3 separate regions of the Homo sapiens genome follow, and regions 1 and 2 are each linked to region 3. The links come from fine-mapping of genetic effects on gene expression. A gene starts in region 3. Each other region holds a variant in brackets. All regions are shown on one strand. Distances are between the middles of the regions.

The links. PIP is the estimated chance that this variant, and not a neighbour inherited with it, causes the effect.
Region 1: its variant is the best candidate, but not a certain one, in a credible set for the expression of RAD51AP2 in cerebral cortex (GTEx, PIP 0.63).
Region 2: its variant is the best candidate, but not a certain one, in a credible set for the expression of RAD51AP2 in pancreas (GTEx, PIP 0.59).

The regions. Positions count from the first base shown.
Region 1 is chr2:17,432,214-17,442,800 of GRCh38, reverse strand. LOC105373448 (a long non-coding RNA gene) reads left to right here and starts at 873. Exons shown (of 3, transcript XR_939759.2): 1 at 873-953; 2 at 8,655-8,709; 3 at 8,839-9,215. The variant A/G (reference allele first, on the strand shown) is at 5,143.
Region 2 is chr2:17,452,094-17,462,680 of GRCh38, reverse strand. No RefSeq gene overlaps it. Among named protein-coding and RNA genes, the nearest start is that of RAD51AP2, 61 kb to the left of the region's middle. The variant G/A (reference allele first, on the strand shown) is at 5,707.
Region 3 is chr2:17,513,158-17,523,744 of GRCh38, reverse strand. It overlaps RAD51AP2 (RAD51 associated protein 2), which reads left to right and starts at 5,305. Exons shown (of 3, transcript NM_001099218.3): 1 at 5,305-8,576; 2 at 9,653-9,733. The coding sequence starts at 5,330. It also overlaps the pseudogene LOC101928149. RefSeq lists a silencer at 5,033-5,282 and enhancers at 5,044-5,593, 4,578-5,777.

The sequences.
Region 1 (10,587 bases), 81 kb after region 3:
TTCCATTATGTTTCTATTTACATAAGAATTTTTATCATGAATGGGTGAATGTGTATTGAATTGTATCAAGTGGTTTTTTTTTTTGTTGTTGTTGTTGTTTTTTTGACAAGGTCTCACTCTGTCATCCAGGCTGGAGTGCAGTGATGCAATAATTTGATCATAGCTTACTGCAGCCTTGAAATCTGGGCCTCACGCAATCCTCTTGCCTTCACCTGTTCCCAAGTAGCTGGGACACAGTCATGCACCACCATGCCTGGCTAATTTTTAAAATTTTTTGTAGAGATGGGTTTCTCTTTATGTTGCCAAGCCTGGCCTCAAAGTCTTGGGCTCAAGCAATCCACCCTGTTCGGCTTCCCAAAGTGATGAGATTGCAGGCATGAGTCACCACATCCAGCCTCAAATGCTTTTTTGTACTTTAATGAGATCATATATTTTTATTAATATGGTGAATGATACTGGTTATTTTTTACATTTTAAATTCACTTTGCATTCATCATATAAACCCCACTTGGTCATGGTGCATTACCCTTCTTATAAATTGCTGGACTTAATTTGCTTATACCGTGTTAAGGATTTTTGAATGTATGATTAGGAGACATATTGGTCTGTAGTTTTATTTTTTAATAATATCCTTGGTTTTAGTATCAGAGTAATGGTGACCACATACTATGAGGTATAAGTATTCACTCTTCCTTTATTCAGTATTTTTTTTTAAATGTTTGACAGAACTTAAGCTGCGTGGACTTAGAATTTTCTTTGTGGAATCGATCATCGTGGCAGACAGGAGGCAGGATTAGATTGCAGCTCTGACTCAGAGCAGCGTGCGGAGGCTCGCATTGTGAATTTTAGCTCCAGATAAACTTCAAGAACAAACCAGCAATCCTGAGAGGACCCACAGACCCTCTGAAAAAAGCGGACTGTTCCTGCAACACCCAGGAGACACCCCAAATACTGTGAGTGACCCAACTGCGGAAGCGGGAAAGGGAGATCCTCCTCTCCTGAACACACACCCCCACTGGAGAAACTGAAGGTCTGTTTGTGGGAGAGGTTTCTGACCTTACCTGGAGCTGAGTCAATTTAGAGGGCCAAGCAAAATACAGGGAGGAAGCAGCAGGTGGGATCTCGCTGGGTTCCCAAGCAAGTCATTCCTGCCTGGCACCACAGGGATCCTCTGGGAGGCAGCCAGAGGAGTAGGGGGAAATCACCACAGGGAAGAAGGTCTCCAGCTGAACTTTGTAACAATTTGAACTGGGCAAGAAGCTGAATCCGGTGTGCAACCTCCACAGGTGGGGGAGGAATCAAGCCCTTGTCTTTCGCAGCTGGGAGGCAGGTAGCCTGGGGCAAGTTCTCAAGACCAGCCTGCCCACTGCCTGGAAACAGACTCAGGGCTGTTGAGGGGGTCATGATGGGAGTGAGACCAGTTCTTTGATTTGCATGGGAGCTGGGGGGAGATCTGTGGCTGCTGATTATCCCCCATTTCCTTGACAATCTGCATGACTCAGCAGAGGCAGCCATAATCCTCCTAGGTACACAACTCCATTGACCAGGGAAGCTCACCCCAACCCCCACAGCATTCACAGCAAGACCCACACAAGGACAGTCTGAGCTCAGACACGCCTAACCCTGCCTCCACCTTCTGGGTCTTCCATATCCACCCTGGTAGCTGAAGACAAGGGGCACAGAATCTTGGGAGCTCTAAACTGTCTAGTTTGGAATAATTGCTTTTGCAAATTTTTTTTTGATTGAATAGTTACTGGGAGTGATTTTGTGGCAATACAAACTAAAAATGACATGGAAACTTTGCAGGGGCAGATTTTCCTAGAGAGGATCAAATGCTTTTTAAACAAAACATCTGTATTCATGGCACATTAGTGACAGGGCTTGAGAACCATGATTTCTTGAACTTAAGTTCTTTTAAAACCTATACCTTACTCAGAGACTAGAGAGAGAACATTCCTTCACAAAATATTTGCAGCCAATGGAAAGACTGGTGTATGACTGAAAACATTTATTCATAATTGAATATTTTTTTTTGAGACGGAGTTTCATTCTTGTCACCCAGGCTGGAGTGCAATGGTGCAATCCTGCCTCACTGCAACCTCTGCCTCCCAGGTTCAAGCGATTCTCCTGCCTCAGCCTTCTGAGTAGCTGGGATTACAGACATGCACCACCACACCTGGCTAATTTTTGTATTTTTATTAGATATGGGGTTTCACTATGTTGGCCAGGCTGGTCTTGAACTCCTGACCTCAGGTGATCTGCCTGCCTCGGCCTCCCAAAGTGTGGGGTTACAAGCATGAGCCACCGCACCCGGCCTTGAATGATGTTTTGATAATGAGACTGAAAATGATTTTACCAGCAAACCAATTAAGATAAATACACATTTATTACATATTAAACATATGGATGGTTCTAAAAAGAATATATATAAAAGACATATGCTTATTGCAAAATTGATGGGGGCAGAAAAACATACACATAAAAATTATGATATTTCCAGTTCAAAAGATATTAAGATAACCATATAGTCAAACCCCTCCTTTAAAAAATTACAGGTTACATAATTTACCAAGTGACAGAGTCAAAACTACATTGCTGGACTTCTCTCTCCAATTCCAGGCAGTTTCAAATTTACTGCCTATTACAGTATAAGATAATGTGCCAGAAAAGTCAGTTGAAGGCTACAGATTGTCAGGTAGTACTACACTTGTTCACAGGATGGGAAGGTCACCATAGGTCGGAGAAACTGGGAAGAGTTTCAATGGGAGCCAACGGCTTGAGCTGGATTAGTTGCAACTCCCCCATCACCCCTGGATGCTTACTCTGGTCAAATTTTTCCATTATCCTTCACTTTTACCTATAATTTACACTATATAAACATATACACCTATATATGCATAATTTATGCTTTCATATCTGTCTCCTCCTGTCCTCTAAAGAACATAAGTTTCACAAGAACGGTAATTTTTGTCTGTCATTTCACTGGTGTGTCTCCAGTGCCTAAAACTGTGCTTGATACTTGGTAGGGGCTTAATGAATATTTACTAAATGAATAAACCCATGAATGAGCACGGAAAATAGTTTCCTAGATTTAAGAATTTATTTATATGGAAAGTAATGAGAGACAATAGAGGCAGAAGAGGTGGAGGCTGGAATTCAAAGAACCTTGAATACTAATGGAAATAATTTGGTACTTATCTTACAATTAGTGGGTGTCATGAAGACAAAATTTTGCTGCTGGTTCTATGAACACATATGGGTTCACATTTATGAAATTATGGTATATTTATTTTATTATAATGAATACTTTTCTCTGAGGTTCTAGGTAATGTAGATGTTTATTTTAATTTTAAGATGTACTGGAAATATTATTTTGCCATGCTGTCCTGTTAAAACACTAGAAAAAAATCTCTGGAAGAGATGTTTTGCTTTGATTTTGTAGATGTATATGCATCCATTTGTAAGTGATTATTATGCACTTTGAATTAACTAATATTTTAGCAAAGTACAGAGTAAGTCCTGTTGTTACTTTTAATACATTTTGCAAAGGTTGCCTTCATGTCTCTGTGGGCCTCAGTCAATTCAAGTTAGAAATTACAAAATGTTTCAACAAGTCTTTCCTACAAAAAGCAATTCATATTTTAATTTTTTTCCTCAGTAAAGATTGTTTTCTACTGCATTTGGTTGCAGAAAGTCTTTAGTTTTATTGTATGATAAAAGCAATCAACAAGCAAATGCAAATACACTGGGAACATTTTGAGGATTTTAATTGTTTGGCTTTAACCTCACAATCTCTTTTTTCCCCATCTGGGGAAACTGGTAATATCCTTCTTTTAATTTCATTGTGTCTGGAGGATATTTTGGATTATTAATTTACAAAAGTTTTTGGCTGATCTCACATAGAACACAGATGCCAGAGGGATACACATTTTAAATAACCAATCCTAATTTTTTTTGTGATTTCTAAACCAATTATAACCCAAAGGAGCAAGAAAGGCCTATTTAAAATCTCAGTGGGCGATTGATACTTCAGGTTCAAGATGGCAGACTGAGCATGCATGTTTTCTTCCTGTGAGGCCCTGTTTTGTACAATCCAATGAAAAGCAAGGCCAACATAATGTGAATGGTGTATCCTTGACTTAGCCAGTATGTTGATCCTACTCAGCTTCCTCCCAAGATCTAGCTCCTTCCTAAGTTCCTATGGTCCTTTTGAAATTGTGTGTGTGTGCGTGTGTGTATTCTATAACAGTGCTGAAAAGCAAGAAAGGATTCTGTAAGTATACCAGATATTTTGCATAATTTTTAAGTTATAGACAGCAGGTAGGACCAGATTGATAAAGGAAATTATAATTTGAAATGGACACAGACAAAGGCAGAAGCCAGTTGCAACGGTGAGAACTGTTTTTACCACAGGAACTCCAAACAAACTCAGTATAGGGTCAGGTATAAATCAAGAAGGTCCTTGGGGCAATTACCAGGGTAATTGAGCAATAATTCTTTGTAGAGGAGCTCCATCTTTACTTAAAGCTACCAGTGGATGGGGTTTGTTCCAAGTCAAAACCCTGAGTAATTTTCTTTTAATGATGATCAAGACAGGAGGCACATAATGTATTAAGGCCAGAGAATAAAACAGAGTGAAGTTTAATAATAAGTCTTGTTCTCCACGGTGGTGTTTTCCTGTTTTATAAAATATGAAATCAGAATTATCCTTGAAATTCAGTTTTCAACTTCATAACTTTAGGAATAAAGTCAGCCCCTTAGTTTTATTTCTTGACATTGAATGTAGGCAATTGTGTAAGATTATCATTTTATATATTTTTCAAAGGCATAGTTGCACTGGAAATAAGTTACTTTAAAACATTTGGGCAACTTTTTTTGGACACACTGGAACAGTAATGTTAATGCATGCAGTCAAATAATAATATTATGAAAACAATCTTAATTTTAATCCTATTAATCTGTGTGACTTTGGGTGGTTTCTATTCTCACATGGATTTAAATGAGGCAAAGAGACATATTTTACATCAATAAAATATACTAACTACCAATAAGATGTAGCAGACTTAAATTTTTATTCATCAAGCAATATACAATTAAAATATAAAACACTCTTACATATACAATAAAAAGGAGACCCAGACA[A/G]GTAAAATATACATAAGGTTTTAGAGCATCTGATCAATAATTACTAAACTTGTTTAAATAAGTATATATGTAGATGATATACATTCTTTCAAACACCTATGGAACATGTATAGAAGTTGAACATATGTTAAGCCTCAAAGAAAATCTCAATATATTTCAAAAACTGGAAATTATTTAGGTCAAATTGATTGATCACAATATAGTAAAACTTAAAAGGGCAACCAAAGAAGATTAGAAAGTTAAATAGATATAAGAATACAGCAACAACAATGTTTTCAAATAGCTCCTGGTTAAAAGAAGAAACCACATTGAAATTATAAACTGTTTGGCAATAAGTCATAATAAAGAACAGACTATAGGAAATGCTGCCAAAGATGGTACTAAAAGGAAAATGTACATTAGAATAATATGTTAAAATGATAAAGAATGAAACTAACAAAAATGACCAATATGATAAGCCACAAATACTAGAAAGGAAAAAACTAATAAAGGTAACAAAGTCTTCATGCACAAAAACAAACAAACAAAACCATTACTATGAAAAGATCCATCAATTTGCCTCCACCCCACCTCCCACTCCCCAAAATTACAAACTTCTGGCAATTCCGAAAATGAAAAGAAAGAACCCACCACTCTCCTCTCCCTCCTTGGACTCACATATAATGCACAGCAGGGAGGAAACCACTGATCTGATTTCTATCAGCATAGGTTACTTTTGTATACTCTAGAATTGTATCTAAATGGAATTATACAGTATATACTTATTTTAAAAATGTATCCATATTGTATGTATCAATCACCAATTCCTTTCTATTGTTGAGTAGTTTTCCATTGTGTGACTATACCACAGTTTATCTATGCACCAGATGATGGCTCTAATTAACAAGCTGCTATCAACCTTTTTGTACAGGGCCTTTGGTGGACATATGTTTTCATTTCTTGCAGAGTCACAGGGTAGATTTATGTTTAACGTTTCTAATAAACTGCAAGACAGGTTTACAAAGAGGTTGTACTATTTTACATTCCACCAGCAATGTTTGTGAGTTCCAGTTGCTCTACATCCTCTCCAACATTTGTTTTCACTTTAGCTATTCTTGAGAGTGTAGTAGAAGTTACACTCTCAAGAGCAGCTGAAGTGAATTTTTAATTGGAAAATTTTACATTTCCATTTAATTGGAATTTTTAATTTGCATTTTCTGATGACTGATGATTTTAAACCTTTTTTCGTGTATTTATTGAAACTTTGAAAATCTTCCTTTGGGAAGTGCTAAAATGGTTTTGCATTTGTAACAATGGCAAATTTGGAATGGAAAGCAGAATGTAAATTAATTTTTAAAAGTACAGCTTAATTAAAGAGCCCTCGCTAATATTGACCTTGCTGTCTACCAGGCAATTAGGCACTCTTTCTTCCCTATGAAGTAAATACTATCATTTCCATTTTATTCATAAGAGACTTTTAACTATAACTTGATCAAAAGGGACATACCTAGGAACATTTTTAAAAAGCAAGTTAACATGAGCTCAACTTAATAAAATTGTTAATAACATTGTTTAATGAAAGCATTTAATAGGATCATATGTTTATATGACCCTAAAAGAGTTTAAGCTGTTTGAAATACTTTTATTTTCTGGTTTTATTCATCTAAGTTTGGTCTTATTTATAATTATTCATTTCTATAATTGAAACAAACAATAAGATTCTATTATATATAATAATATTTTGTTTTAAAGTACTTACTACACAATTCTGCTCTTGTAGAAATCATATTTCTGACTGAAGTTCCTATTTAAAATTTTACTAATTATATTACCAATAATATGAAAGAATCAAAACTCATATTACTAAAATATATACCATTATTGTTTAAAAAAACATAAAAATAATGAAGCAGAAGAAAATAAAATACTTTTAAAATTAAAGTCCATTTAAAGAACTAAAATAAAGAACATTAACTTTCTTTGGTAATCAGTGACATAAAAACACCCTGGGCCATGCTTTTGTGAGGATGATATATTAATCATAAGAAACGTTGCCTCAGCCTTGAACCAGAAGGCCCCTTTTTAATAAATTAGTTTTCTGGTGCCTTCTTCTGGATAAAGCAGGCCCAATGGAGAAATCTGTCTAGTGGGCATTAAACAAGTGGTGATGCAGAAGGCACTTTCTTTTATGTTCTGCCTAACTTTTAATCATCAGTCTAAAAGCTTTTTACAAAGCCATTGGATAGTCCCCCGTGGTTAACACAACTATATCAAAGTACAGTACTGTAAAATCTTTCTGAATAGTGCTGGGGTAAGAGGATGGGGACTGAGTCAGGAGCCCAGATATCCTGCTTACCTTCATTAGGATCTGGATAGCTGGATTCACGTTACCAAAACTGACCATGCCTTTCGTGAGTGTGTGTGTGTGTGTATGTGTGTGCCAGTGTGTGTGTGTGTGGTTCCTCTTGTTATACTTTCTGATGTGAGTGAGTACACTTTTTATCACTTTTTGGAGGCAGAGCTCTGTCTTCTCCTAATGACCTCAGGACACTAGTAACAATTATCCTTGACATTGGTATAAAACTCCAGATGTTTAAAAGCCATGTATATTTATGGATTTATGAGCACCTGCTTCCAGCCTTTTGAAGTCAATTTCAGATTTGAGGTAGGTGTCTGAGACCCGAAGAGTACATGGTTTGACCAACGCCATATTACCCAATAAAGTAGAATTACTGGGATTAGAAGCCAGGTATCCTCACTTTTTCCAAAACTGTACCAAGCCCTCAGTGTTAGACAGCCTCTTCTAGTTGAATGCTTTCGTCGTGTGTAGGTTTGGGATTGGAGAATTTATTTGGGAAAAGGCCATTTCTCTGAAGCATTCCAATTTTGTGAAGTACTAAAAAGTAAAATTTCTATCATAAATATACAGCAGGGTACAAAGTGTTTATACTTTTCAACTTATGTAATTTTTTTCTTTTACTTTTTTCTATTTTAACCTGCTAATCATTTAATTTTCATCTCACATCACCAAGATTGGGTAAGTTAGAAGACTAAAATGATACTTTCACATTAACATTTAGGATTTCCTTATTTTAACACAATTTTTGTAAAATTTAGGAAATTCTGAAGCATGAGGACACATAAAAGGAACGTAATGAGTTTTAAAGGTCTATAGATCTGGGTTCTGTCATTTATTAGCTGTTTCATTGTGAAGACATGATTTAACTTCTTTGACTCTTGTTTCTCTCACCTGTAAAATTAGAATAGTAATACCTGACTCAAACAATTGTCAGGATGTTTAAAAGCCATCATATAATTAAAACGTCTAGCATGGTGTGTAGCTTATAGGTTTTCAAGTAATGGTAGCTACTATTAGTATTGTTATTTTTGTTAAGTTGCTTTTAGCAAGGATTTTTTGTCAAGAACACATGCATTTGCATACATTAGAATATCTTTTAAGAGTACTTTGTCTTTGGGTATAATTTATTTGAACTCTTCAGAGTATATTTGAAACATAATTATTTCTTTATCAGATGAAGAATCTGAGGCACAAAGAGGTCAACTGGCTTGCCCAAGGGTACTTGGCAGGTAAGAATTAGGATAATGCTAAGTCTTCTCTTTCTTGGCCAATAGGTGTACACTGTCCCATATGTACTTCCATGTATGCCTATGGAAGAAAATGTCTACCAAATTGATTTTTTTACACATGTATTTTAGGTCTCAAAAACATCTTCTACCATATTGGAACAGAAAAAAATGAAGACAATGAGCATATCCTCTTACACATGACTTCTATTGAAATGTTTCCAAATCTTAAATGCTATAATATTTGCTTTGTTCCTTATCAACTTTTACAAACAAATCTTTAGAAACTGCTTTACAAAAATAATATATGTTCCCATTTATTTATATGTTCATTGCTTACCTCCATTCACTAGAATGTAAGCTCCATGATGGGAGAAATACTGTCAGCATATTTTCATTTCATTGTATATCCTTAATACTTTGAGTAATGAATAGATGAGTGAAACGTGTAGAATTTAGTAAGTATAAATATGCAAAAATAAAACTTTCAATTTAACGTACCCATTTTAAATACCGTATATAGTTTTTTTACAAAAATGTGATAATGCTGTTTTGTAATAAGTTCTTTTTTTAAATTTTAACAATATAAATGAACATTTTTGCATGTCAATAAATATTTGTCTTTTTAAATGTATGGGTAACATTTCCATATACAAATATGACATAATTTATTTTTTGTTGTTGGGCATTTACATTGTTTTCAGTTGCTCTATATTATAGGCAATGCTTCAGTCTTTGCATGTATCCATAACACTTCTCTTTGGCTACATTACTAGAAGTAGAGTTTGCATTTCATGGATTTTAATTACAAGAATTGCCAAGTTGTCTTCCAGAAAGATGCTGCTAATTTGTACAATAAGCAGCATTGTAGGAGAGGGTTCATTTTCCTGAACTTTAACCTCACTAATATTTTCTTTCATTATAATTCATATTGTTATTTTAAAATCTTCACAAATTTGGTAAAAGTGGGATCTTCTTTTATGATTTGCATTAATTTTATTGCAAATGAGCTTTTACTGTTTTCTTATGCTTATTATTTAATTTGTTTTATTAATTTTTCTCTTGGTACTCTTTCTTATTAAGCTATTAATAGGACAAAGTAGAAAATAACTATTTCTCAAATTCTTTTGATTCGTAAGACATCAATTAAAAAAAAAAGAAACCCAAACCAGCATGCCTACTTCATCCTGTGTTGTGAGACATGGCTATGTGTGTCTAGGGTATTCCAGTTTCCCGAAGCATAGTAAGTGGAAAGTGACTTGGTAAAACATAAAAACAGTAAGATGGATTAAAGCCAGACAATGGAAGAGTTAAACTTTATGCTAATGAGTTATGACTTGAATCAGCAGGCAGTTACTATGAAAGAATGTACAATTTAGCCATCCCAAGTTGTTATATCTTGATGAGTGAATAGCTTACTACTTTTGCAGCAATATGTAGTTTTTAAAGTAATTTTTCTGTTAACAGGAAGGGATAATTTGGACAGGGTAGTGGGAAAAAGATCAGCTTAAAGTTTTTCTTACCTTATCTAATTTCTCCCACCCAGAATTAATGCCACTCTCCTTTCTGTTCCCTTGGTACTTTCTTCCATTATAGCACTAGCCACATGCAATTGCAGCACGTAACATCAGTATTATTTCTGTATGCATCTGTGGTGCCTACTCTAAGGCACAGTCCAAAAGGGCCTTTTCTGTTTTGTGTGTTCCCATCCTGCTGAATGGATGGTTTGGTTCAATAAAGTCGTATTAACATCAGAAGACCGAATTGCATTTCTTGTCTTGTTGGCCAGAAAGCTGATTCCTGTCCATGATTACTTGAAATGTGGATTTGGTTTAGCTAATCATATCTTTTCTCATTGTAGTTAACTAGAAAGAAGAAATT
Region 2 (10,587 bases), 61 kb after region 3:
ATATTTAGCACTCTGCTATGCTCAGTGGCAGATACAGTCAAGATTTATTCCTCTCTTTTCCCTTATTTGGGAAGATAAAACACATAAATGTGAAAATATAGTGATAATACAAGGTAGAAATTGTTAAGTGCCAATTGATTTATACAGATTAAAAAAACTTTCAGGAGAGAGTTCCGAGGAAGGGAACTAATCCCAGATTGGAATAATCAATTATGCCCTCACAGAGGGACTGGCATTTGATATGGGCTTTGATGTAGAATTCTGATGAGTGAAAAGATGGGAAGAGTATATTTTTGGCAGAGGAAAAGTGTAAGTAGACCAGACTGGCTAGAAGAGAGGATTTAGTTAGAGGAGCAGTAAAAGATAAGATTTAAGGCTAAGATGAGTCTTAAGGGCCACGTAGAAGATTTTGAACACTTGAGGGAGATACACATTATTAAATGGCAAATCCTCTTTCAGGATTCAGTTGAAATGTCACTTCTTCAGAGCATTCTTCCTTGGACACTTTCCTAAAGTAGTCAACTTTTTCCCCATCTTCCCCTCTCCCCATGCTATCACAGTTACTGCCTAATACATCACCATATTTATTTCTTTCATAGCATTTAGCAGAATCTGCAACTGCTACACAGTTGAAGAACAGCAAAGATTAATTGGTAAGAAGACTCTGAAAATTCTTACATTTGAACAGGGAAGACACATGTAAATTCAAACCAGTAATATGAAATAGAATATGAAAAGTGACTCGATTAGAATAATGTTAATTTATGGCAGAAGAAAGTTGGTTGGGATTTGAATGAGAACATGATAGGAGTTTCTAATTCATGGCTTGGATGATATCCATCTTAAAATAATTCATTACACCAAACATTTGGTTTATGTGATTTTCTGTACCTGTTTATAATTACACAATAGAATATTATTAAAAGTTATTGGAAAAAGAAATACAATGATATGGCAATTGGAAAGAAAGAGGAAACATGTCCAGCTATGGTCATCAGAAAGGTATCCTGGAGGTGATGACCCTTGAGCTGAAACAACTTTATAAGATTCCTATAAGGTGAGGTATGAGATGGCTTTTGGGGTAGGAAGAAAGGAATAAATAAAATCCCAGAAGTGGAAAAACCTGGAGTGTGTTTAATAGTGTTAATTGCAATTGCCTTTGATGGAGGAGTGGGGAAAGCAAATGCTGGGAAGATGGACTGGGATCATGGGGAACAGAAGTGACAACTTGTGATAAGTACTGTATGTTTCCAACTCACAGTAGTCATCTTGTAAGTATTTTTTTGAATACATGAAATTTGTATTAGGTGGTATACAATTGGCCTAGTGCCTACAGTTGATCTGAATTTCCCTCTTGAGCAAATAGAGTTGTCATATATTTTAGTCCACCACTGATGCGTAAATAAGCACCTGCAGCAAAGAGAAAAAAGGAAATTTAAAATCCATTAGCAGATGTTTATGCAAAGGCAGCAAAGACCAGGAAGCTTTCAAAGGCAGGATAGGTGGTACATGTTAACTTTATTGGTGATTTTTTTTCTTAAAATTTGAAATGTTTATATGTTATATTATAAATCAGGAAGTAGGATAATTCAGAAATGGAGAAGAAAATTAGTGAATATTGAAATTAGAAACATCTGGGTAAATAGAATAATAGAGGTAGGTTTTGATTAAAAGTTGGAGGAAATAAGTTGGAAGTAAAGAATTAAGAGTGAATGAGTCATTGAATGGCTGAGCAGGAAAGTACATATCACCTGTGTGGAAGAAGCAAGTACTTTTGAATAAGACAGGCTTTGGGTTTTGAATCTTGGTCACCAATGACTAAATCTTGGTTATCCAATGACTAGATGACATTGGTTATGCAGTAACTTGGGCCTTACTGAACCTCAGTTACATTCAAATCATAAGGTTGCTGGGTTTAAATGAGACATGGAATTTAAATATTTAGTACTATCTCTGGTTCCTTGTGGTTCTCAATAAATAATGGTAACTTTCCACTGTTCCCTCCACTTTTCCTTCCCCCTCCCCACAGTAGCATAACTGCTATGCTTCTGGACTAAAGTTCAGTTAGAAAAACACAGTAAACTTTATTTCACTAAGTTAGAATTGGCTTGCTCTGTATCTACCCTGGTGTCTGGATGCCTTTTTCTATTTGATCTGAGTAAAGACCAAATTCCATCTGGAGTTTATAAAACATCTTTTACTTGTCATTTTCAAACAGATTTTTCTGCATGTGTCTACTAGATGGTTTGAAAGCTGTAAGGAGGAATAAAATGCTGTGAAAGAATTCCAAGGTGGTATGTAGATTTTCTGACTGTAGCAAACAGTTTTTTTATTATTAAAAGCACCAAAGTTTATTATCAAAATTATCAACTGTACTTTCCATAAAGATGGAATATTATGAGCTCAATTAATGTGCTCCATTACCTCACTATTACAAAATAAATCCAAAGTTCTTAGTATGACAATTAGATCTCTCCATCATTCATCTGAGGCTTCTGTTTCATCTTTATTATAGATATTTTTTCAAATTTATTATTTGCAAATTGCATTTTATATTCTTATTCAAACCTCACGACTTCCCACAACTCATTTATTAAGTAGTGAGGCTAGTAATTCAAACTTGGTCTCTGTGATTTAAAACTCTTGTTCTTTTTCCACACTGGAATGCTCTCCTTCTTGCCTTCTACCTGAAGCATCTTTTGTATTAGTTATTGTTCTATTTATCTTTCGTGTCCTGGCTCACATGATACCTTTTCAATGAAGCCTTCCTTGATGCTTCCAGTTGTATTTTAGTTCTCTTCCCTATACTTCCAAAGCTCTTTAGACCTTTATTATAGCCTAGTATCTAAGTTTGTTCTACTAGAGTTAATATTATGGCAGAGATAATAATTTATCCCCCTAAATATCCAAGTTCTCTTTTCTTTGATAGTATATAGAACTTCCAACTTTTAGCTATGCACAAACAATATTCTCAGCCTTTCTGATAGATAGCCATAGGACTAAGTTCTGGTCACTGGGATATAAGTGGAAGTGTCATGTGCACTGGGAAGTAAGTACTTAATGAGATAGTGATTGTCTGTCTTTATCCCTTGTTGCTGGCTGGCTGCAATGTGCTTGTCATCTCTGGAGCTCAGGCAACTGTACTGGGCTATGAATTAGAAGCTGTGTGCTAGAAGGGAAGAGGAATAAGAGAGAAGCTAAGGTCTCTGATAGGTTTAAAAATATCTCACCAATTTTAATCTACTAATAGATTGCTTTGGATTTCTTTTACATGTGAGATAAACTTCTATTTGTTTAAGGCATTGTTATTTTAGGGTTTCTATTATTTGCAGCTGAATGTAATTCTACCTGATATAATTGCTTTTATTCTTAGATAGTCTCTCTTTTCTAACCCAATGTTCCTTCCTCTTCCTCTTCCCACCGCTGTGAACTGCTTGAGGGGAAGAGTTGTGTTTCATTCATTTTTTACATGGGAATAAATATATATTAGAGGATTAGACACTTATTTATTTATTCAACCAATACATTACTAAATGTCAGGCACTGTGTTAGGTAGAAACAATTCAGACATGGTCCCTCTCCTGATAGAGCTCAAGAGGGAGACAGATTCTGAATAATCATTGTTAACAGTGGGTCTCAGTATTTGCTCCATGTCATCTTTACCTGGGAGTTTCAGAAGACTACTAAGACCCACATCCATTCCCCTAACCCCTAACAATTTAACTAGAAACTCAGGAGATGTGATCTGGGCATCTATGTTCTAAGAGCTTCCCAGTTGATTTTAATGTGCATTGAAGTTTGAGAACCATTGAATTAAACCAACAAGAAGGCACAGCAGTGACTTTAATCTAATTACTAATGGTAGCCAGAGAACACTAATAACTACCATGTGAGAACTGTGTTAGAGTCCTGGGGCTGACACCACAAATTACCACAAACTAGGTGGCTTAAAATAATATAAATCTATTCTCATACAGTTCTGGAGGCCAGATATCTGAAATGAAAGTGTCATTGGCATGACCATAGTCCTTTTGGAAACTCTAGGGTAGATTTCTTCCTTGCTTCTTCCAGCTTCTGATGGCTCCAGGTGTTCCTTGGTGTCCTTGGCTTGTGGCTACATTACTCCACCAATATTTGTCTCCATCTTCATAATGCTTCTTCCTCTTATATTAATCTTTCCTATCCCTTATAAGGACACTTCTCATTGAATTTAGGTCCCAACCAGGTAATCCTGGGTGATCTCTTTATCTCAAGATCCTCAACTTAAATCGGCAAATAACTTTTTTTTTTTCAAATAAGGTAACATTAAAAGATTCCAGGAATTAGGGTGTGGTCCTATCATTTAGGGGACCACTATTCTACCCATTAGAATTACCTCTTGTATATTGGGCACTAAAATAGCTTTCATGTGTTTATTCTTATTTAATTCTGTTGTGACTTTTGTTGTTGTGATTTTCCTCTAATTTGGTCTTGAGGTCTCTCTCTGGAGAGTGGCTATAAATTCTAGCTCTGCCCTGGTGGAAGTTCAGAGGAGGTGGTCATAGATGTTTACAGTGTGCTTTTCATGGGGGTCTGTCTTTATCCTGGAAGATGGCCTAATGTCTGTCAGATGCAAGATCAGGTGTCTCTCTCCCAGGAAGCCTGTTTATATTGAAAGATGCCTTGTAGTTCATGTTTGACCTAGGTCCAGTTTGTTCCCATCCAAGTAGCCACTCTGTAGGAAGAGCTCTGACCAGGGGAGTGAGGTTGGGGTGTATAGGTCAGGTCACAGGGGAGACAGTACAACAAAACACATGAAATGGCAGAAGCAGCACGTTATTGACAGATCTGTGAGAGAATAGGATTGCCCATGAGCGAAGTCCAGAGACAGCAGGATGGTCAGCCCGCAGGGAGGGGCGGGGGGTGGTGAAAGAGGGGAAAGAGAGAAAAAAAACCTGTGAGACTCTGCTTTTATTAAGATCTGTGGGCATTATCCCCTAGGCTCTCCTTCTGGAGTTGCGGGTTGGCTAGTTTAAAGAAAACATATGCAAAGCGAGAAACTGATTTATGTGACTCTGGTGTTGACCATCAGGCTTTTTAATGGTCAGTAGCTGTGGGCATGCTGGGTTTTGGGTCACTGGGATGAGGAACAAGGGGGCTGTTGTGGGAAGTCAGGGACCCCAAACGGAGGGACCAGCTGAAGCCATGGCAGAAGAATGTGGATTGTAAAGATTTCATGGACATTTATTAGTTCCCCAAATTAATACTTTTATAATTTCTTATGCCTGTCTTTCCTGCAGTCTCCAAACATAAATTGTGAAGATTTCATGGACACTTACCACTTCCCCAGTCAATACCCTTGTGATTTCCTATGCCTGTCTTTACTTTAATCTCTTAATCCTGTCAGCTGAGGAAGATGTATGTGGCCTCAGGACCATGTGATAATTGCATTAACTGCACAAATTGTAGAGCATGTGTGTTTGAACAATATGAAATCTGGGCACCTTGAAAAAAAGAACGGGATAACAGCAATTGTTCAGGGAATAAGAGAGATAACCTTAAACTCTGACTGCCAGTGAGCCAGGTGGAACAGAGCCGTATTTCTCTTCTTTCGGAAGCAAATGGGAGAAGTATCACTGAATTCTTTTTCTCAGCAAGGAACATCCCTGGGAAAGAGAATACGTGCCTGGGGGTATAGGCCTATAAACGGCCCCCCTTGGTGTCCCC[G/A]TCTCTTACGGATGAGGCTGTAGGGGTGAAATAGACCCCAGTCTCCCATAGCGCTCCCAGGCTTATTAGGAGGAGGAAATTCCTGTCTAATAAATTTTTGGTCAGACCAGTTACTCTCAAAACCCTGTCTCCTGATAAGATGTTATCAATGACAATGGTGCCCAAAACTTCATTAGCAATTTTAATTTTGCCCCGGTCCTGTGGTCCTGTGATCTCACCCTGCCTCCATTTGCCTTGTGATATTTTATTACCTTGTAAAGTACTTGATGTCTCTGACCCACACCTATTTGCACACTCCGTCCCCTTTTGAAAATCCCTAATAAAAACTTGCTGGTTTTTGCGGTTTATGGGGCATCATGGAACCTACCGACATGTGATGTCTTCCCTGGACGCCCAGCTTTAAAATTTCTCTCTTTTATACTCTGTCCCTTTATTTCTCAAGCCGGCCGATGCTTAAGCAAAATAGAAAAGAACCTACGTGAATATCGGGGCAGGTTCCCCGATAGGGGGCTGTGTCACAAACAGCCACACAGGAAGGGGAAGTTTTTTTTTTTTTTAAATTTTTTAAAACAATACTTTAAGTTCTAGGGTACATGTGCACAACGTGCAGGTTTGTTACATATGTATACATGTGCCATGTTGGTGTGCTGCACCCATTAACTCGTCATTTACATTAGGTATATCTCCTAATGCTATCCCTCCCCCCTCCCCCCACCCCACAACAGGCCCTGGTGTGTGATGTTCAGGAAGGGGAAATTTTAACAAGGCCAAAGGTGATAGGGTACTATTGGTTTTAAAATAACTACGTTGGTCCAAAAATGGATGCTGAGGTAGCAACCATACGAACAAATTTATGACAAATCCTAATGCTAGATCTATGAGGTAACAATATCCAAATTTTACAGATTTCAAAATACATACTATGTAACTCTGGCTTTTTGATAGAAGACAACTATGTTGGTATTGTTCTTGGGCCCAATTTTTGGTCTTCAAAATTATATCTACTATTAAAATCAATAGTGCTATTCATGGAAGTGTGATGTGACATACTGGGCAAAGATCAACCTAAAAAATGAATTTCTGGGTTAGTGCTGGTACTACCGCACAAAGTGGAAAGTCTTGATGCATTTTTTTTTTTTTTTTTGGTGAGTGGGGAAGGTCAATGGCAGTGTTGGAGATGGTGACATAATTAATTTTCCTTTAGTTATTGACATAATTCTAGATACTCCTAGGTATAGAAATATGTTTATTTTTGACTTAATGACTTTCTATTTCTGAAAAAGTGAATGAAAAGAAGATCACCATTTAATGTTTCTCCTATAGCTTGAGAGAATGAGAGAATGTTTCTGTAGTTTCACAGTGTCTGGTCTCTTCAATTCTTAAGGCAGGCTGAAAAACATCTGTTTTGATGCTGTAAGTTGTCTCATTATGATTTCTCACCAGCAATAAAAACTGTTTGCTTCACACTATATGCACCCAAATACGCAGTTTCCTGTAGATGTGGTTTATTTTCATTTTCCCTTTTAAATTTTAACTTCTAATAATAATTGATATTTTGTCAAAATCATGGGTTTTTGAGTCAGTCAGGCAGGTCTTACGTATATTTTAATCCTAGTCCAAACACTTTCTAAAGGGGAAAATGCTATCTACCTTGTAGAATTGTCATGAGAATTAAGTGAGACAACCTTGTACACGGTTGTCACTCAGTATGTGTTAGTTATCTTCCCTCCCTTTATTGACCTCTCCCAAGGCTGATTGGTAACAATGGCTAGATTTGGATTGCCAATAGAGACAATACTTTTTGCTTTCTAGATAAGAAGACCTTGATTATTTGCCTTAAGATCTATGATTCAATTTAGAAAGCATGCTGATACTAAGAAAAAATAGTTCTTTAAAAACGTATCTTACTAAATATCAAGACTGTAGACATTATTTTTACAACATGCTCTCAAAGAACTCCATTCTTTATTTTCTAAATTTAAATAATTCTTAGACATTCATAACAATGGCAAAGATCTATGAAACTTTAATCCAAGCATCTACTCACATGTAAGAAACCTAGAAAAAAATGTTATTTTCTTAAGTTCACAAATTTATTTCCTTAGAAAATCTTTGTCTCTTAGGAAATTGTACATATTTAGATGTACACAATAAATTATGTGGTTTGTTATTTTAGAAAAAGACCAGAATGGGTGGGAACTAATTAAGGAAGAGTCAGGTCTTTAAAATCATAAGCACCTGCACATATAAAACAACATACAAAGAATAAAAATAAATGCTCAGTACCTAATTAAAATTTATACTACCTAATTGTGCTTTAAACAGCACATAATTAAAACATGCATACATTTAGTAGGCTATTTTCTAAAAGTGAAATGCATTTCAAACAGGAAGTAAATAAAAACCTGCCTTATCTGGCCTGTTTTACCCAGGAAACTTCACCAAGGCTAAAACTTTTTAGTAATTAAAGTGCAATTAAATTGGATTTTAAACTCCATATCTTTTATTTTTAAAAAAAGACCACATGAAACTTTGATTTCTTTATCTGTTTATGAGCGGTTTAGAATAGATGGGCACTTTGGCTCTATGTTTCATGATGAACACTCTATTAAGGACAATGCTTCTTTCTCCCTAGGTTTTGGGTCTCTGACTGTATTTGCTGTCAGAGAAAATTTACCTAAGTATCCCAAAATGCCATAGGAGAAAATTGGCCTTAATGGGAATGTGAAATGTATCTTAATTTCTCTGTCATCTTTCTTTTTTATGCCCTTTTCTCTGTGCACACTTTTTTCTTTAGGTACTTGGTGCTCTGCTGCCCTCCAGCCCTTCTTGTCACTATGGGGAATAATTTACTAAGCCAGTGGTTTAAAACTGAGTTTCTCTGAAGGCTTCAGGCATGCCTTTGAGGGGTGAGGGGGTTGCTGATAGCGATGCACCATTAACCTGCTTCAATCAGAACAGTTCTGGTGGTGTCTGCTTTATTTTCCACAAGGCTTTGGAAGATTTTGTTCAAAGGAAAGTTTTAGCTGTTAAAGAGAAAGTTTGTAAGTTACAATAAGACTTTGACACCATTAAAAATTTTTCCAACATACAGAAAAGTTGAAATATTAATAGAGTTAACATTTGCATGCCTTCCATTGAGACTCCACAGTCGTTAACATTTTAGTCTGTCTGCAGAATCATTTCTGAGAAAATTGTCCTCCAAAACAGTGCAGATACATCTCCTAAAAATAAGGACATTCTGTCACATAGGTATAATACAATTGTTGCACCTAGAAATTTCACAACAATTCTCATGTATTAACTAACAGTAAATGTCGTGAGTAAAAATTTTGGGTTATGTCCCATTAGTCTAAAATAGCCGTCCCACAATTTTATTTTTCACATTTAATTATTTAGAAGACAAGACCAGTTATTTAGTGGAATGTCTGCATTTTGAGTTTGTTTGTTTGCTTCTCGTGGTGTCCTTTAATTGGTTTCTTTACCCCTGTATTTCCTATAAACTGTAGAATAGGTCTAAAGGCTCAAATAGATTCAATCAATCATTTTTGGCAAAGAGATTTTCACAAGATCCTGTATTGCATCAGGAGATGTAAAGTGACACTATTAGTGATACTAGGTTTGATTACTTAGTTAAGGTGGTAACTACAAGATTTCTCTATTGCAAAGGTAAATTTTCCCTTTCACAGCGGACAATCCTAAGAGTGAGACGTCCATAAAATGTGAATATCCCATTCCATCAACTTTCCTTCTGATGGTTTTAGCACCCACTGATAATCTTTTACTGAATTATTTTTTAAAATTACATTTCATTTTAAAAGGATCATTTCTTCTACTTTTAATACATCCCTTTTTTTCTGTAATAACATTTTAAACCATCAACTGGCAGTGAGTTATAGTTTAATTTTAACATGTGAGGTAAATGCTTACTTCTTTTCCCTTCAATCACCAGTTTTCAAGTTAAGGAGTTGAATAATTATTGCCTGCAATGATAGCAAGTGAGTGTCTTTTCCTTCTTTCTGCCTTCCCTCTCACCGTCCTTTCTTTCCTTCCCTATTTGCCCTCTTGCATTTTCTTTATAAGCATGATGATATTTTCAGGAATTTTTATTTATTCAATGCAATGCAACAAATTACAGTTACTAATTCTGGTGCCCAAGTCATCCCAAATGTGGCCAGTGGGAGCACCTTTAAACTGGCTCTTCTATCCATTTGATAGATTCCTAGCAGTTTTTGAATACTTCCTTGCTTTCTGACACCCACTGGCCCATGTTTTCACTTTGTACTTTCCATGTCTGAGACATAGAATCAGCCATTTCTCCAAGGAGAACTGGTCCCCACCCAATTTTAAAAACTATATATGTTTTTATATGTTACCCAGTATGTATTCTTTTGTATTTGAAGCAGGACAGGCCTCATGGGTATGTGGCTAGTGCAGTCACATAGGGACACATGTTCAAAAGGGCCCTGTGCTTGTGTGTTTGCAATCTCAAAATTCCTAATAATTCTCTCCTAGAATTTGTGTTTTGTAAGTGAAGTCTGATGGGACAATTGAGCATGCACTGGGGTTTGGAGTCTGGACTCATGCTGAGGCTCACTCCCTGCTGCCACTCTGGAATCAGAACTCAACTGTCTACTCTCCAGCCCTCTGTTGTCCTGGCAGCAGAGCCTCTTGGAGTGTGCCTGCCTGAGATCCATCTTGCTCTCTGCCCCTGACAAGGGAGGGTTCCTGTCCTGGGTGCAAGCCTTGCAGCATCTTGGGGCAGGGCATAGTGGCCACCCTCCCTGTTTCTTGCTAGCAGCACCACCATCGGCTGCACCTCTGTCGGAATGCTTCTGGAATCTTCTGCTCAATATTATGTTTGTGAGATTCGTCTATATT
Region 3 (10,587 bases):
AAATAGCTACTTTTTTGTATATGTTAAGTTTTGGACTTTCCACTCATAAAGAACTATCAAATGAGATGAAAACTAACTACAACGAGCTTCTTTTATTTTTAAATGAGGTTTTTGCATATGTCCTGGCATCAAATATAGAGTCTATTGAATTGCTTGACTTTGATATTAGCTAGACAAACTGCCTGGCTCACTACAGCTATAAGCTTGTAGTAAGAATTGACTTAGATAGTATGAATAATATAAATTACTATTGAAACATAAGACAGAGTTTGATGCTGTACTATGCTGGTAACTGTTAACAACTGGTTTTCTAGAAAAAAAAGCTCTGATCTGTAGCATATGCTGATTTCAGTGATATAAATACTTCCATTATGAGCCATTTACAGTGATGTAAATACTTCCAAACTACCCACGTGAAGTTACTGAAATACACAGTTGGGAAGAGATGCTAACAATCAACTCTTCTGAATCTGTAAGAGCCAGCTCAGCACACTATGAGTTTGATAATAATTATTGTAATTAAAAATGTTTTTAAATGGACATTGACTGGGTGCCCAGGACTCTTCTAAATGCTTTATATACTGTATTTCATTTACTTTACCCAGCAATCTATGAGGTAGGTTCTATTTTTTAATTCCCATTTATGGGAAGCTGTGTCTCAGAAAAACTAAATAATTTGCTCATATTACACATCAAGGAATGAGTGGACTATAGATTCAAAAACTTAGTTTGATTCGACTCTACTCCTCCAACTACTATTCAATATTTCTTTCAGGATATAAAATTAAATTATGTTCAGCATAGTTTTCATGTTAAATGTATTTTTTATTTAATGTCAATATATGTAATTCCTTGAAAATTTTAAGTAAAAGATAGCTATATAAATTTGCCATGTCCAACTAAATATTTATGTGACTAAACTCAGGAAAAAACTACAAAAGGAGGAAGTAATCTAAGTATTTTAAGTTTATATGATTAAAAAAAGACATTTTGTCCTCTCAAAACCTTGAAAAGATTTTTACAAAAGTCTAATTGGAAAGAACTCGTAATTGTTTTTAAAAAAGGTGTTATTTGCAATTGCACGGATTCTAATAAAAAACAAACTCTTGCTTTATTTCAGCGACAGGGTTCTTAAATTGTTACTGAAATTTATTAGAGTATCAAATGGATGTTGTAAATAGTGGAACATTCCACCTGTTTTTCCAATACTTAGAGCTCAGGAAAAAGGTTATTTCTAATTAGCTAAGTAAGCAGAAAATATAATAACATAATAATGCGGAGAAATTTAGAAGTTAAAAAAAAGGTTAGCAAATAAAACTGTAGGGGTCTAAAGATGACTGTAAACTTTGGATCACTGCAGAAAACTTTCCTAAGTAAGACCTGCCACTATGCTTTAAGCAAACGAAGCAGCATATGGCCTAGACTGAAACTGCGAAGGGCTTTATACATTTAAGGGATGGCAAGAAGTTAAGTGCTGCAGGAAAGTAAGTTGTGTTGTGGGAGTAGATGTGGAAGCTGAAAAAAACAGTTTAGAACTGAACTATGAGGAACTTTCTATGTCAAATTAAAGTTTGTATTTTATTCTGAAGGGCATCAAAGGTTAAAAGAAGTTCTTAAGAAAGTAACAAAATGATTAATATTCTATTAAGAAAAAAACTTTTGTAATGGTATTGGGCAGAAGTTGAGAAGAGACTAGTAAAATGAAGACTGGTTTATTACAATATTCTCAGAAAGAGATAACGAGAGATTGAAATAAAGATGATACATTATGGATAAAAGGGGGATTAATTTCAGGGTCATATTTGATGTAAAATCAACAAGATTTGATGAATGTCTATGTAGGGGATGCATTTTGGGAAGTAGTAAAACAAAAAAAGAGAAAAAGTTAAGGATAATATAAGAGTTTTAGTTTAGGAGACTGGATAGATTATGATGTCATTAATGAACATTGAGGACAAAAAGGTGGTTTATAGTTTAAAGCATTTGCACATATGTTATCACATTTAAGATGTTATTTATGTTACAAATTACCATTATTGCGCTGATAAAAACTTAATCTTATATGCAAATAAATGTACACAGTATCCTGATTTTCTTATTTTCCCCTAGTGCTTATCATTGACTTGATGAAAAGTGCTATTTGTGTTATTTATAGCCATATTTATTTTAAATATTTTTAGTAAGTGATGATGTTTTCCTTTCTAACTGCTGTATTTAAATATTTTTGTTAGTGGTTCTTTTAACTGTTTGAAATATATTTTATTATCTTTCAGTTTGAAACAAACTTTTAGATTTAGCATATTTATTCACTTCTTACATGATTTATTAAAAGAAGTAAAAGGGAAAAACTGTCTTGTCATATTTCTGGTTCTACCATGAAACACAAATGATGCTAAAACCACTAATATTTGAAGTCCATTTTGAACTCCTATGGTGTTATAGCTCAGCATAGTTTTCATGTTAAATGTATTTCAACATGATTATAAAAGCAAGTCTCTAATGTATAAAACTAAAGCAAAATAACACAAAAACAAGAAACTTAAGGCACTTTCAAGACACCATGAATCCATTTGAGTTGGTAAATGAGTATTAACCATGGAGTCATTTCATTTCTTCTAATTAACTGAGGTACTTAGAGGCACTGGGGATACAAAAATTAATAAATCCTTGTCCTGATTAATGGAGCCTAGTGGAGGGGACATATAAACAACTCAATACAATAAAGACATTTTAAGTGTTCTACAGTTAGAAATAAATTGCTATAGGAAACAGATGACGATGCAAGTAATTCTGCCCAGGGATTGGCTACAGCAGGGAGGAGGAAGAGAAGCTTTCACCGTAGAGGTAACTTTTGAGTAGGGCCATTTAAGGCTTAATAAGAATTTGCCAGGAGGAGAAATGAAGGGCTTTGAGAACATACATAAAAGAGCAAGAAAATAAACATTCTGGTGTAGGCAGCATGGGGGCAAATTGTTTAAAAAAAAAAAAAGAAGCTGAAAGAGTTAAGTAGGACCTAGTAGTGAGGATGTGACATACTATGCTTAAGGACATTAGACTTGATATTGATATTGAGTAAATTTCTGATTTAACTCTAATAGGAGATTGTGTCATATCTTCAGTATGGGGTTTATCTCATGAACTCATTAATCCTTTTATTCATTCAGAGTTGAACTATAAGAAGACACCACGCTAAAAGAAATCAGATAGATGCTGTCTTTAAAGCTCAGTTTACTGTTACTAAGGAAGGTAAGAACTTCAAAGGAAGGGTTGGGTAAAGTGATATAGAAAAATATGACATTTGAAATGGGCTTTGAGGCATCAGTAAGATTCAGACAAGTCTTATTTATATTTTGATTATGATGAGTTGAAGACATAATTTTTTGCATTTCTCACTTATAACTGGTTCATTTTCTAGGTGGCATTTAAAAAAACAAAGGAAAAAACCCACATAAATAGTGGTTTCAATAGCCATTGTTTGAAATGGCAGTGGCCATTAGTATAATGTTTAAATAAGTAAATGCAAGAAAAGACTCTTTTTTTGGTCTTTATGGCTGTAAGTTTCTTCAGGATGGAGAAAATAACTATACATTTCTGTATCTTGGAGTCAAACAATTGTTGAGTTACATGTAATACTTCTGGGTTTTATTTGAATTTTAATCCTTAAACAATGTAGAGTTGTTAAATAATGATGTGATGGAGATATAAAAAATAATGTGCTCTTGGGCAAACTAGCAAGATGAAGAAATAATCAAATATCAAGTTACAGATCAATCTAGACTAGAAATCACAATCAATGGCATTTACTTTACAGATTTAAAAAGTCTTGGTCCTAATATCACACTAGCGCACCAATTATATACACCTTAGCTATACAAGTCACCCCTTATGGGCTAAAACAGAATGGATTAGAAAAGAATATAGATTTGTGGAAAATCTGGGATAGAAAAGCAATAGAACATAAGATACACAGAAGTAGAACTTGGAGAATTCACTGATGTGGAATCTGAACCACTGCCACATTCTTATTTATAGTGTTAATGAAGTGCTTCTGCTGCAAGGCTTTCTACAAACTTAAGTAAACATTTCTCTAGAGGAATTTACACTGAAGTAATCACAATGTATCTAAGAGTATTTAAAAAACATGAAACTGGTGAACATCTTATTACCTAAAGTAGAAGGCTAGTTATATATTGCCATCTATGCCATGGGAGGGTTCTGAAGTTAGGATTCTGGTTGCATGTTATTGTAGTTATTATAAATTTTAGCATAAAATGTAATATAAAACATACCAAGCTTGAAACAACCACCAAGGGAATCGAGGTGTTTATTACTGAGCACCAGTTACATGTTTCTTAAGAAACATGTATATAATAATAATAAACATTTTGAAAAACATTTTCTTCTTAATGATTATAGAATTCACAAAAACCAGAATTGACTGGAAATCATAAATGATTCTCAAAGCAGGAAAAAAAAAAACAAGAAATAGCGTCTAAAAATTTGTTAGTAGGTATGAGTCAGACCTGTATTATTATGTTTACACTAAATGGGGTAGTTCAAACATATAATATTTTATCTCTAAATAATTTTATCCACAATATTTGAGAAGAAATCCCCACAGCACATAGTAAACTATTTTTTTTTTAGTCTTAAGTGAAGAATAATAATTATCCGGATAATAATTTCCACACATTTTTTCCTCAGATAGACTGGTAAGTACTGGTGGCTTTTTTCCCCCAAACACACTTTATTAGTGAAGTGGAAATATTAATATGATCTTAAGTGACGCTGGAAGGATTAAAAAGTTTTTCCATACACAGAGAGATTTGGTCTGGTGCTGACAGAACTACACGATTTTACTGGAGAGTCACTCGAGCCGTTGTGGAGATGCCGTTTCTGAGGTAAACAAAATTTTAGAATTTAGAAAATAAAGTTGTTACCATTCACAAATTTTTTTTTTTTAAGTGAGAGGTTCTAACTTTTCCCCTTCGTTCTACCACAGGGAAAAAAGCATTTAGACTCTCTACAGTCGTGGCATTAGAAAAAGGCGCTAAAAATAGACAATGTAACGGCCCAGGGTGCTCCGACCTTCAGTGGTGAGACAACCGGGGCGCGTGGGTGGGGGCAGGGAGAGGAGGGACTGAGGGAGGCGGGGCGGGGCTGAGGCTGGGGCTGTGGAGGGGCGGATTCGGGGTGGGGCAAACCCTGAGATTAGGCTAAGGCCAGGTCTTGAGGGGCGGGTCAGGGGCGTGACCAGAGCGGCCCGGAACCGCCTATTAAGGGATTGGAGCCCCGCCGGGACTCGGACAGATCCTTTCCATTCGCTGTCATGTCTCTCCCTCAGCCCACGCCGCGGATGGCCGAGCTCAGAAAGCCTACCTCCTCTTTAACGCCTCCTGAGGACCCGGATTCCCAACCACCTAGTAGCAAGCGGCTCTGTCTTGAGGAGCCTGGAGGTGTCTTTAAGGCGGGCTGGCGACTGCCTCTGGTGCCTCGCTTGTCTGAGGCGGAAAAAGTCTGGGAGTTGTCCCCTAGACCCTTCAAGGGACTCCTTGTTTCAACGAATGCTATTTTCGATAACTCCACAGACTCGTGTGTGGAGAAATCAGTCAGTGGGAAGCAGATATGTAATCTGAAATGCTCAAATCTCAAATTCCAAATGAGTAGCTGTTTGCAGTCTCCCCCCTCACAAAGTCCTGATTCTGATTTGAGGGCTTCAGGAAGGTCTGAGGCAGGCCTGCATGACAGAGAGGCTTTCAGTGTGCACCGCAGTAATAGCTCCAAAGCAGGGGTTAGTCAACTTCTGCCCAGCACCTCTATACACGATATACATGGAATTAGAAATGAGAATCGAAAACAACAGTTTGTCCAAGGAAGAGACAATGTTCACAAAGAAAATCCATTTTTAGATGTTACCTTTTACAAGGAAACTAAATCACCATTTCATGAAATTAAGAACAGATGTAAAGCTAACAGTGTTGTGCCATCAAATAAAAGAGAAAATAACATTTCATCATCTGTACTAAAAATATCAAAATCTCAAAACCAGCCCAGCTTGGAAATTGCCAAACCTAGCTATTTTAGAGATAGCGGCACAATAAGTGTCCCTCAGTTTCCAATGGACTTAAATAGCAAAATGTCCTCTGTCTATTTAAAGGAAATAGCGAAGAAAAAGAATGACAAAAAAGAGGCATATGTTAGGGATTTCACAAACATTTACTGGTCCCAAAATAGACCTGATGTTAAGAAGCAAAAGTTACAGAATGATAAAAAAACTGTAGAAGCGGAAAACATTTTTTCCAAATGTTATGAAAATGACTACCCATCACTCAGTAGCCAAAATACTTGTAAGAGAAAAGACTTGATCAGTTCAAACTACTGTAACTGCAGTAGTATCCAGTGTAATGTAAGAGACTCTAGAAAGAATTTCGCTATACTAGAAAATGCAAATTGGGAGGAAGCAGAATGTCTGGACAGTTACGTACTTACCAGGCTGGAAAAATCTCAAAACTGGGACTGTAACGTTAGACATATTTTGAGAAGAAATAGAGGAAATTGTTGGATTATAAATAATTGCAAGACTAAATGTGAAAATATGAAAAAAACTGAAGAAAAATGGAATTGGCTATTATTATTAGAAATAGACCTTTTAAGCAAGGAAGATTACCACTGTGCAAAAGTCATCAATGCATATGAAGAACAATCAAAGCTTCTCGTAAGAGAAATATTAGGTAGTCAGACAGCTTTAATAACGACTGTTTGGCTAAATGGTAAAGGAGAAAATGATAATACTCTACAGTTGAGATACAATACTACACAAAAAGTCTTTCATGTGAACAACCCTTTTGAAAGTTTCATTATAGAAATTTTTTATTTCCATAAAAGTATTTCAGGAAATAAAAAAGATAATAGTATTTTAACCTGCTGTAACATTTTGAAGTGTAAAAAGCAAATTGGTATAATTGGTATTCAAAATCTAATAACCAGAAACATGAATACAAATATAAAGAATGGAATTTTAAGCATATATTTACAAGATAGTGTTTCAGAACCTTTAGATATTCTATTGAAAACTAACATAGCTTTTTTGCTCAATAACTTTGACTCTTTAACAAGAATTGAAAATGATTTTGAATTAGAAGAGGAATGCATTTTCAAGTGCATGCTTTATTTGAAGTATCCAAAAAATATAGTGGAAAATCATACTGCATATCTAGTAAAGATTTTAACTTCTTCAAGACTATTAGAAGATAATATGAAACCTATGTTAAAGAAAAGGAAGTTATTTAGAACTGAACAAGTTTTTGAAAAGTCTAAGAAAAAACTCATTAATTCCTTCAGTATGACAACTCAAAATACAGGTTTTCCGATTTTTGAAACATATGAAAAAATTCCCCTTTTAATGGACTTTGATGACATGGATGAAATTTCTTTAATAAGAGAAATTACTTGTCAGAATATGAGTTGTCCTCAACAAGTTGTGAATGTGGAAAATTGGGCTCACTATAATTCTAGTACTGTTAAAGCACATGGTAATTCTTGTCCTCAATTTATACAGAACAACCGAGGATACATTAATGAAAATTTTTATGAAGTAAATATGCACAGCCAAGATTTAAATATGGAAAGAAAACAGGGACATAATAAGATCAGTAACTTTGACTGTGAGCACATATTTGAAGATCTCTGCAATGTTAGGCAACAGGCCATACCAGCAAGCCACAACATAATACATAATGAAGAGACCCATACCACTTCTATAACTCAAGTACTAAATTTTTGGAACTTGCTAAGTGAAATAGAAGAAAAAAAATATGACTTAATTTTGAAAGAGGAAGTAAAAGTCACAGCTGAAAGTTTAACAAATAGTTGCCAAGTTCACAAAGATACTAAGATAGAAAAGGAAGAGAAAGATAGTTTTTTTCCAATGGATGACATGTTTTCTGTACAGTCAGTTTCATTAATAAGTAAGGAAGTAAATGTGGAAGAAAATAAATATGTTAATCAAAATTATGTAACAAATACAAATGAATATGAGAGTATTTTGCCAGAAAGGGAGATAGCTAATTCAAAGGATTTTCACAGAAAGAATGACTCTGCATTATATATTAATCATCAATTTGAAACTGGTCTGAGTGAAGGGAATGATGAATGTTTTCAGGACTTAGCTGCTAAATATTTATCAACAGAAGCTCTGACAATAGTAAAAGATTTTGAGATGAAGAGAAAATTTGACTTAGTACTTGAAGAACTTCGTATGTTTCATGAAATTAGTAGGGAAAATGAACTTCTAAGCACTGTGGAAACAAACAATGGGCAAGAAAATTACTTTGGAGAAAATGATGCTGAGAAGGTAAAAATGGAGATAGAAAAAGATTTGAAAATGGTTGTGGTCAACAAAATACGTGCATCTTCCTCGTTCCATGATACTATAGCAGGTCCTAATATGGGCAAAAGTCACCAAAGTTTATTTAAATGGAAAACTGTACCCAATAATGGAGAACAGGAAGTTCCTAATGAGAGTTGTTATCCAAGTAGATCAGAGGAAGAATTACTTTACTCTACTTCTGAGAAAGGTATGAAATTCATTTTAGAACATTATTTCTCATGCTAGAAAAATTACTGCTTTTTTCTGTGTAGGCCAAATGTATAATTTTGACAACAAAGAAGGAAGGTAGAGATAAAATGCAAGACAATGTTTATTGATGCACACTATTTTCTTTCTTTTTTTTTTTTTCCAGCAAGAAGCCATAGCTTTATTTATGATAGAAACAATACAAATTTCAAAGCAAGCTGCAGTTACTCCTTGGAAACACCAAGAAAAAAAAAAAAGGTGTTTTCATACAGTTACATTGTTAATTCCACAATAGCATTTACCACATATCATTACTTGTACTTCAGGGCTCAGACTGCCTTTGCTCTCGACACATTTGCTTCTGGCATGACCAATTCTATGTCCTTAACTTCTTTTTTTTGAGACAGAGTCGAGCTCTGTGGCCCAGGCTGGAGTGCAGTGGCACAATCTCGGCTCACTGTAACCTCTGCCTCCTGGGTTCAAGTGATTCTCCTGCCTTAGCCTCCAGAGTAGCTGGGATTACAGGCGACTGCCACGACACCCAGCTAATTTTTGTGTTTTTAGTAGAGATGGGGGCTTCACTGTGTTGGCCTGGCTGGTCTCGAACTCCTGACCTTGTGATCCACCCCCCCCGCCGCCCTCGGCCTCCCAAAATGCTAGGATTACAAGCGTGAGCCACCACGCCAGGCCTTATGTCCTTAACTTCTACACCTGTTTCATCAACCTCTTCCTCTTCACTCTCCTCTTGTACAGTTGGAGTCTGTGTGTTTTCTTGAATGTTTGAGACAGCTTCACCTTGAACTTTGACACAGCTTCACCTTGAAATTTGAATTTCTCAGCAGCTGCTAGCTGGGTGCACACTATTTTCTCATAAAGATGTATTCAAATGTTCAATAATATACTGAAGTTGAAGGAAACAAGTTAATTTTAAAAAGGAGCTTTGAAGAGTCCTACTTCATTTTTCTAAATATTAGGAGCCAACTGAAGGAAATATTTCTGAAAATATAATTTGTTTATACCATTAATATTTTATATAAAAGTTACTTTTTGCTGTAACATATCACTCTTTATTTTCAGATTGTGAAACACCTTTACCTAAAAGACCTGCTTTTCTCCCTGATGAATGTAAAGAAGAATTTAATTATTTATTGAGAGGAGGTAACATTGTGGTTACTTTTTAGGATAACTTCTAAGATGATTATTGCATTATGGTATTTTTAGTATGAGGAAAGTATAGATATTCATGTTGTTCAAAATAAATACAAAGTTTTAGCACCTTTTAAGAGCATTAATATTATACTGATAAATTCTAATAATTAAAAATTTGGTAACAGTTAAAATGCTATTTAGAATATTATTGGGAAATGCACTCTGCAAAACTACGTTCAGATATTTGTATTGATGTATTAAAGTGACTATATGTTAAGTGTTGCATATGCCTAGTTTACACATCTAATAGAGATGTGTAATAGGGACCATGCTCTCTGATAGAGAGCATGCTCTATGCTTCTCATTGTTATGAAGCTTTTATGTGGACATTTTATTATGTGAATAAAAAATATTTGCCATTTAGTCATGTCAACATGATTTTTGACTGATGTTTATACTTTCGATTACATTAAAAATACAACTAGGCCAGGCACGGTGGCTCACGCCTGTAACCCCAGCAATTTGGGAGGCTGAGGTGGGCGGATCACGAGGTCAGGAGATCAAGACCATCCTGGCTAACACGGTGAAAACCCATTTCTACTAAAAATAATAAAAATTAGCCAGGCATGGTGGTGGGCACCTGTAGTCCCAGCTACATGGGAGGCTGAGGCAGGAGAATGGAGTGAACCCGGGAGGCGGGGCTTGCAGTGAGCCTAGATTGAGCCACTGCACTCCAGCCTGGGCGACAGAGTGAGATTCTGTCAAAAAAAAAAAAAAAAAAAAGCACACACTAAAGAAAAATTAAACAACTAACCTTATCTTTTGCCCAACAGATCTACAATATCAGAATAAAACACAGTATG